Linked DNA regions of Homo sapiens. The protein of the gene in region 2 purifies or fractionates together with the protein of the main gene of each other region. This does not show direct contact. Each region holds a gene or a part of one and is shown on either strand. Other genes may lie near its edges.

Evidence for each region. The genes of interacting proteins can lie anywhere in the genome.
Region 1: the proteins of ARHGEF7 (region 2) and DNPEP purify together in Homo sapiens (affinity purification with mass spectrometry; one large-scale study listed by BioGRID and IntAct). This does not show direct contact.

The regions. Positions count from the first base shown.
Region 1 is NC_000002.12:219,377,785-219,381,438, forward strand, and holds part of DNPEP (aspartyl aminopeptidase), read right to left. Parts: intron 3,653-3,654; coding exon 3,551-3,652; intron 1-3,550.
Region 2 is NC_000013.11:111,275,756-111,279,409, reverse strand, and holds part of ARHGEF7 (rho guanine nucleotide exchange factor 7), read right to left. Parts: intron 1,824-3,654; coding exon 1,737-1,823; intron 1-1,736. UniProt on the Homo sapiens protein: Acts as a RAC1 guanine nucleotide exchange factor (GEF) and can induce membrane ruffling. Functions in cell migration, attachment and cell spreading. Promotes targeting of RAC1 to focal adhesions. May function as a positive regulator of apoptosis.

The DNA of each region.
Region 1 (3,654 bases), on a different chromosome or scaffold from region 2:
TGGTGGCATGCATCTGTAGTCCCAGCTACTTGGGAGACTGAGGCAGGAAGATCTTCTGAGCTCAGGAGTTTGAGGGTGCAGTGAGCTATGATCATGCCACTGCACTCCAGCCTGGGAGACAAAGCAAGACCCTGTTTCTAATTTTAAAAAAACATTAAAAAAAAAAACCAAACTCAAATAGAAAGGTGAAGATGACTGAGTGAAAAGAGGCAACAAAAATATATCCAATATAATATCATTTTAAAAAAGTGTATATGAAGTTTATGCATAGAAAAAAATCTGGAAGACTATACCAAATTTCTGCAGATTAGTGTTTTATTTTCTCATCTCTATCTGTATTTTCTAATTTTCTAAAATACATGTGTCCTACTTCTGCTGTAAATTATTAAAGAAAAATCTCCCAATGTCTTCTCACTGCCTTAGAATAAAATTGAAATGTCCTTCCATGGCCTAGGTATTCCTGTATCATCACTGAGCTGGGCCTCTCCCCTAACCCTCTCCTGCTCTCATCCTGGCTCTACCATCCTGCCTTTCTCTCCTCCTAAAAGACGAGCTCATTCCTGGCCCCCCTTGGGGCCTTTCTACTTGTGCCCTCTGGCTGGGACCCTCCCATAGCTGCCTATTTCTCAGTGGTTAGGTCTCAGCTCAAATATCACGTCCTCAGAGAAGGCTTCCTGGGGGCAGAACAATTCAGCTTTCCGAAAGGAAGAGTGAACACTGTGCAGCAGAAAGAGCCCTGGGCTGGGAGTCAGGATACCACGGTTCTACACCTGCTATGATTGTCACTGGACCGCCCATGCCTGAGTCCCTGATATAGAGAGGTAGACAGATAAATATAGAAATAGACAGTCATGCACTACATGGTGACATTTCAGTCAAAGATAGACTACATATGACAGTGGTCCCGTAAGATTATAATGGAGCTGAAAAATTCCTGTCGCCTAGTGACATCACAGCTGTTGCGATGTTGTGGCATAATGCATGACTCACTTGTTTGTGGCGATGCCGGCGTAAATAAATCTACTGCCAGTCGTATAAAAGCATAACACGTGCAATTATGTACAGTATGCAATACCTAAGAATAATAAATGACTATGTTATGGTTTATGTGTTTACTATATTATGCTTTTTATTGTTATTTATTTATTTTGAGATGGAGTTTCACTCTTGTCGCCCAGGCTGGAGTGCAATGGCACCATCTTGGCTCCCTGCAACCTCTGCCTCTTGGGTTCAAGCGATTCTCCTGTCTCAGCCTCCTGAGTAGCTGGGATTACAGGCGCACACCACCATGCCCAGATAATTTTTGTATTTTCAGTAGAGACGGGGTTTCACCATGTTGGCCAGCTGGTTTTGAACTCCTGACCTCAAGTGATCCACCCGCCTCGGCCTCCCAAAGTGCTGGGATTACAGGCATGAGCCACGATGCCCAGCCTACTGTTATTTTAGAATGTACTCCTACTTATTAGAAAAAAAAAAAAAAGTTAACTGTAAAACAGCCTCAGGCAGGTCCTTTAGGAGCACATTGTTATCATGGTAGATAGCAGCTCCCTGCATGTCACTCTCCCTGAAGACCTTCCAGTGAGACAAGATGTGGAGGTGGAAGACAGGGACATTGATAATCCTGACCCTGTATAGGCCTAGGCTAATGTGTATGTTTGTGTCTTGGTTTTTAACCAAAAAGTTTAAAAATTTTAAAAATAACGAAAAATTTTAAAAATAGAAAAAAGCTTACAGAATAAGGATACAAAAAAGAAAATACTTTTGAATAGCTGTACTATGTGTTTGTGTTTTAAGCCAACTGTTGTTACAAAGGAGTCAAAAATTTTAAAAATGGAAGGTTATAAAGTAAAAAAGTTGGCCGGGTGCAGTGGCTCACACCTGTAATCCCAACACTTTGGGAGGCCGAGGCGGGCGGATCACAAGGTCAGGAGTTCGAGACCAGCCTGACCAACATGGTGAAACCCCGTCTCTACTAAAAATACAAAAATTAGCCAGGCATGGTGGTGCGTGCCTGTAATCCCAGCTATTCAGGAGGCTGAGGCAGAATCGCTTGAACCTGGGAGGCAGAGGTTGCAGTGAGCCGAGATCGTGCCACTGCACTCCAGCCTGGGTGACAGAGTGAGACTCCATCTCAAAAATAAATAAATAAATAAATAAATAAATAAAGTTAAAAAGTTACAGTAAACTAATTTATTGTTGAAGAAATACAATTTTCAAAATAAATGTAGTGTAGCCTAAGTGTCCGGCATTGATAAAGTCTGCAATAGTGTACAGTAATGTCCTAGGCCTTCACATTAACTCACCACTCACCCAGGGCAACTTCGAGTGCCGTAAGCTCCATTCCTAAGTGCCCTATACAGGTGGACCATTTTAAATCTTTTATACCATATGCTTCCTGTAACTTTTCTTTTTCTTTTCTTTTTTTTTTTTTTTTGGTTTTGTTTTTTTGGAGACAGGGTCTCACTCTGTCGCCCAGGCTGGAGTGCAATGGCACGATCTCGGCTCACTGCAACGTCCACCTCCCGGGCTCAAGAGATCCTTCCCAAGTAGGGAAGGCCTCCCAAGTAGCTGGGACTACAGGCATGCACCACTCCGCCTGCCTAATTTTTGTATTTTTTGGTAGGATGGGGTTTCACCATGTTGGCCAGGCTGGTTTTGAACTCCTGACCTCAAGTGATCTGCCTGTCTTGGCCTCCCAAAATGCTGGGATTACAGGTGTGAGCCAACACGCCTGGCCTTCTGTACCTTTTCTATGTTTAGATACACTGACCATTTTGTTACAGTTACCTACAGTTTTCAGCACAGTAAGAAGCCGTACAGGTTTGTAGCCTAGGAGCAATGGGCTACACCACACAACCTAGGTGTGCAGCAGGCTGTCCGTCTAGGTTTGTGTACATATACTCCATGATGCTCACACAATGACAAAATTGCCTAATGATGCCATTTCCCAGAATGTATCCCTGTTGTTAAGCAATGCATGACAGTATATATGTGTGTATATGTGTATACACAATACTGTCATGTGTTATATACATACATGTATACAACATATATATGTACACACACACACACACACACTGAGGAGAAAGGACTAGATGTCTAATTTCTCAGGCAAGAGAGAAAATGAGTAGTTGGAGTTCCATACTCCCCAGCCCTGAACTTTCCCTGTGGAAGCCCCCAGGGTGTGTAGGAGACACAGGGGAAGTGGGGGTGCTGCAGGGAAAGACAGGCCTACCATGTGCCAGGAGCACACTGTACCTTCAGTCTTCATAGAAATCCAGCAAAGTAGGCATCACTATCACCCCTATTCTACAGATGTGGAAACTGAGACTCAGAAAGGTTAGGAGACTAGTCCAAGGTCACACAGCTAGCACTGCAGCAGAGCCAGCATGGAATCCAGCTGTATCCAAAATCCCTGCTTTTCTCACTCTACTGGGACCCCCCTCCACTCAAGGCCATCTACCAGGTTCCCTGTTCATGGGGGGCCCATCTGTTTGTGCCCCCACCAAGCTCCCTCCATCACACCTTCCCAGGCAGGGCCCACCCTCACCTGCAGGGGGACCTTGACTTTGTTGGCCACCTCTCGGATCAGGGCCTCTGACACCGCGTTTGAAGCATAGCGTTGCTTGCTGTTCACCTTGATCACGGGGCCCT
Region 2 (3,654 bases):
AGGGGCTCAGACCTCCAGCAAGTAAGGGCCAGAGAGGCTGCTGATACCCTACAGTGCCCAGGACAGTCTCACCGAGACCCCCAGCCCCTGGCCATGAACGATCCAGTCCAGAACGTCAGCAGTGCCCAGGCTGAGAAATCTCATCCTAAAGCATGGCCGGTGGAAGAGGAGACTGCTGGACACTTCTGTGGCCAAGCGTATTTAAAAAATGCTACACACTGTGAACTCCTTTCCAAGATTCGTAATGCATATAAGTACTTTAACAGCTGTAAGTCCTACAGAAAATGAAACCGCACAACTGTGTTTAACCTAGCCCCTCTGAACATCGGTGTATAGAACACTATGACTGTGGCTGGACCGAACACTTTTTGGCATCCCCCAAAGCCAGTGTTCTAATGGTAGAAACGGATACCAATGATACAGAGACCATGGGTCACCACTGTGCTAAGAATGGAAAAATAAAATCCTGTTGTTGAGATGAGCTCCAGCAGTCTGTCAACACATCAAGGGCAAATCCAGTGTAAGCACCAGCCACACAGGCAGAGACTCAAGCCTGCCACAAGTGACAACCTCTTCTCTCCTTAGGTTAGAGAAGGCCCCTGCCTCCAGCCACTGGAATGAGATTCTGGGGATATAAAATCGGAAGCCAGATAGTGCTGACCAGAAAGGACAGAGATTTAGGTTTATCAAGGTCATTTAACACAGAAGTAGCTGCTAGTTTGGGGGAAACTGTAGTGGGCACTATCCTAGCCACAGATCACCTCTCTTCAGCAGTGGCCTAACAAACTACAGCCTCACTTTCCTGAGTCTGTTCCTACATATGTGATTCACCAATTCTAAAGCACGTGTGTTGGTGTAAGCGTATGGCCACAAGTCCTCTCTGGGTGTCGGCAGAGCCTCTGTGAGGGCATAGTGTCTGCTTAGGGATCTTGAACGTCCTTGCTGCGCCAACACAAAACAACACGTGCTACAATGAAATGCAACCCAGAGAACACGAAGTGGCGGCTTCTGCTGCAGTGGTTACGTGGTGACTGGCCAGTCCTCAGAAAGTTGATGGGAAGGATATGAGCCTCTGTAACTTCCCAGAAAAAGAAGAATGAAACCTGCCAAGTGCATCTACTAGACAGACAGCGAAAATACCAGCTCCTTCATATACCACCACTATAAACCACTGTCGCAACAGAAAAGGCCCTGCTCACCCTTGCACCTCCTTCCCAAATCTGCTGTCACATTTTCTCAAAGAGAAGCAGGGAAACAAAAATTAAAAAGGTTCAACGATCACACACTGCTACTTACACCCTTACATCACTTTCTGTTTGCTGATGCATTTGGGCGGTGCCGTGCCACTGACACAAGATCTTAGTCTACACTACCCCACTAACCCACAAGCCCTACTTGAACCAATTTCACAGAATAAAACCATAGCAAGGAGGAGCAAGGTATTTTGCATGAAACGACAGAAGGCAATGACAGAGACTGACTTGTGCCACAGTAGTCTGTGTCCTTATGAGGTTGCTCTACAGTTTACACTTCTTTCCTTTTTTGAAATTAACATAGGATATGCTTGCAGTCACAACGAAACACAAACAGGAGCTGTACGTCCATATCTGAATATACAGCACTACACACACAGCACATACACAGATAGATACACGTAATATTTAACACAAAATTCAAAGCCAGTTTGAAATTATCCTCAGATCCACAATAAAATATAAATTTAAATTGTGTTTTACCTGATAGATAAAGCCACTCATCCTAGGACTGGCAGACAACATTAGCAAAACATTTGGGAAGAGTAGAAGATATCTTTCATTCTTTTCCTAATACAAAAAAAGAAATCCAAAACATTTCTTAAAAAACATCTACTTAACAAATGTGAGCACAAATACTTCACTTATTTATACTAGGCCCTATGAAACATTACATGATATTTCTCGTTTAGGTATTTCTATCAAGTTTTATCAGGTAAATTAAATGGAAACAATTATGATAAATTCTGTATTAAGTCTTAACATATGATTATGAGAGAGCTTTAACATATAGGTAAAGAGAAGGACTTCCAAATTCTTCAAAAAACAAAAGGTAAGAAAGTAAACGGACTGATTAAAAGATCCTGGACTCACAATTAGCCTGTGTAACATCTTGAAACTATATTTGGTTAAAGAGTTCAGCTCTGTGATTAACTATTTTCAGGTAAGCTAAAATTTTCTTTTTCTGGTTCAGAGAAAAAGGAGAGAACCTATAAATTTTAATGGGGTCAGGGGGAACAGGTGGAGTCTTTAAGCTAAAGAAAGGATAAAATGTTAAAATCAATTTTGGTCTACTAGTAATTCCTGGCACTTCCCAAACCTCCCAAATGTCGACTCAGTGTTGTTTTCATCCACCCCATAAACATCACCTGGTTTACATCAGACTTAAAAGTATTACTTATGTATTAAAAATCATTTGCTTCAGTAAGATAAAAGCCAAAGAGACCATAAGTGAAAGAAAAAAGTTCCTAAGAATCCAAAAAGAGACAAAAAAATGCCACAGTCCTTTTCACATGTTGACATTTAAACTACGGCCCAAAAAAGTGAAATCAGTCCTAGGAATTAGTTTCCCCAAGTATATTCCTCAGAACATTAGGCTTATGCAAAGCACCTTGAGAAAAGAGTCTTCCGTACTTTAAAGAAGTCACTGAGAACGACTTGCTATATTCCCCTCTTGAAGAATCACAACATACATTGGGAACATTCACAGCCAAGTCTCTGAGGAGCTCTATCATAAAGAATCTTTTCCACTAATTACGTTCAGTCGTGATCAGAACCACTCTGAAGCATTTTGGAGTAACACCCACCAGTGCTGTATAGATCTAATATTATAAAGAACACACTTTGGGAAATGTTTCCACAGATTAAAGTTTAAAAGAGCATGACTCAAAAAGAAACTTCTTCTGAAAAGATGTGAAGTTTTTATAATCATGGTTTCTTATGGTACCCAAACTACAAGACTATGTAGAAGGGGTGATATTTTACAGGTGGAAAGGAAAACACACTATATAAGTTTGAAGTTTTAGTTTTCTTATTCTCCTTGGAGTCTTGTGTTCAAAAATGAGTCATTTCGCATGTTTTGATCATGTTATTTTTGCAAAGGTAGAATAAAATTCAGAAAGAGGTGCCTGTTCAGTGACCCATTGAATGTATGTCAATGTGAATCATGAAACAAACTGCTCGATTTTCACTGTGTGGGTGGGTATGTCCCAAAAATCTGGGTTGATCTCTCACTTAAACCAAACCTGTAAGAAAACTGTGACTCCTGTAAGCATATGTCAGCTAGCATACTTTCACAGGAAAGTATAATGACCCGAAAGCATTGAGAGCAGCAGGTCCCTGTGAGAGTGAGCCTTGGTACAAAGTTGCTGGCCAGATAAGCGCATACAGCTCCATGCGGATGTGTGCACAGGACTCCTGCAAGTCTTTCTGCACACTATCTATCCTTCAGTTCACGTGGGCTTCGGGCCACACTGACTTCAGCTGGATCAAACTGATCAACAAGTCCACACTCAGCTCTAAGCCTCTCTAACATGCCATAAGCCTCTCTCCTGTGTCAAGAATAAAAAGTAGCTCACAAATTATAAGATAGAGCTTCTATTAGACATTTTTCATCGCTTGA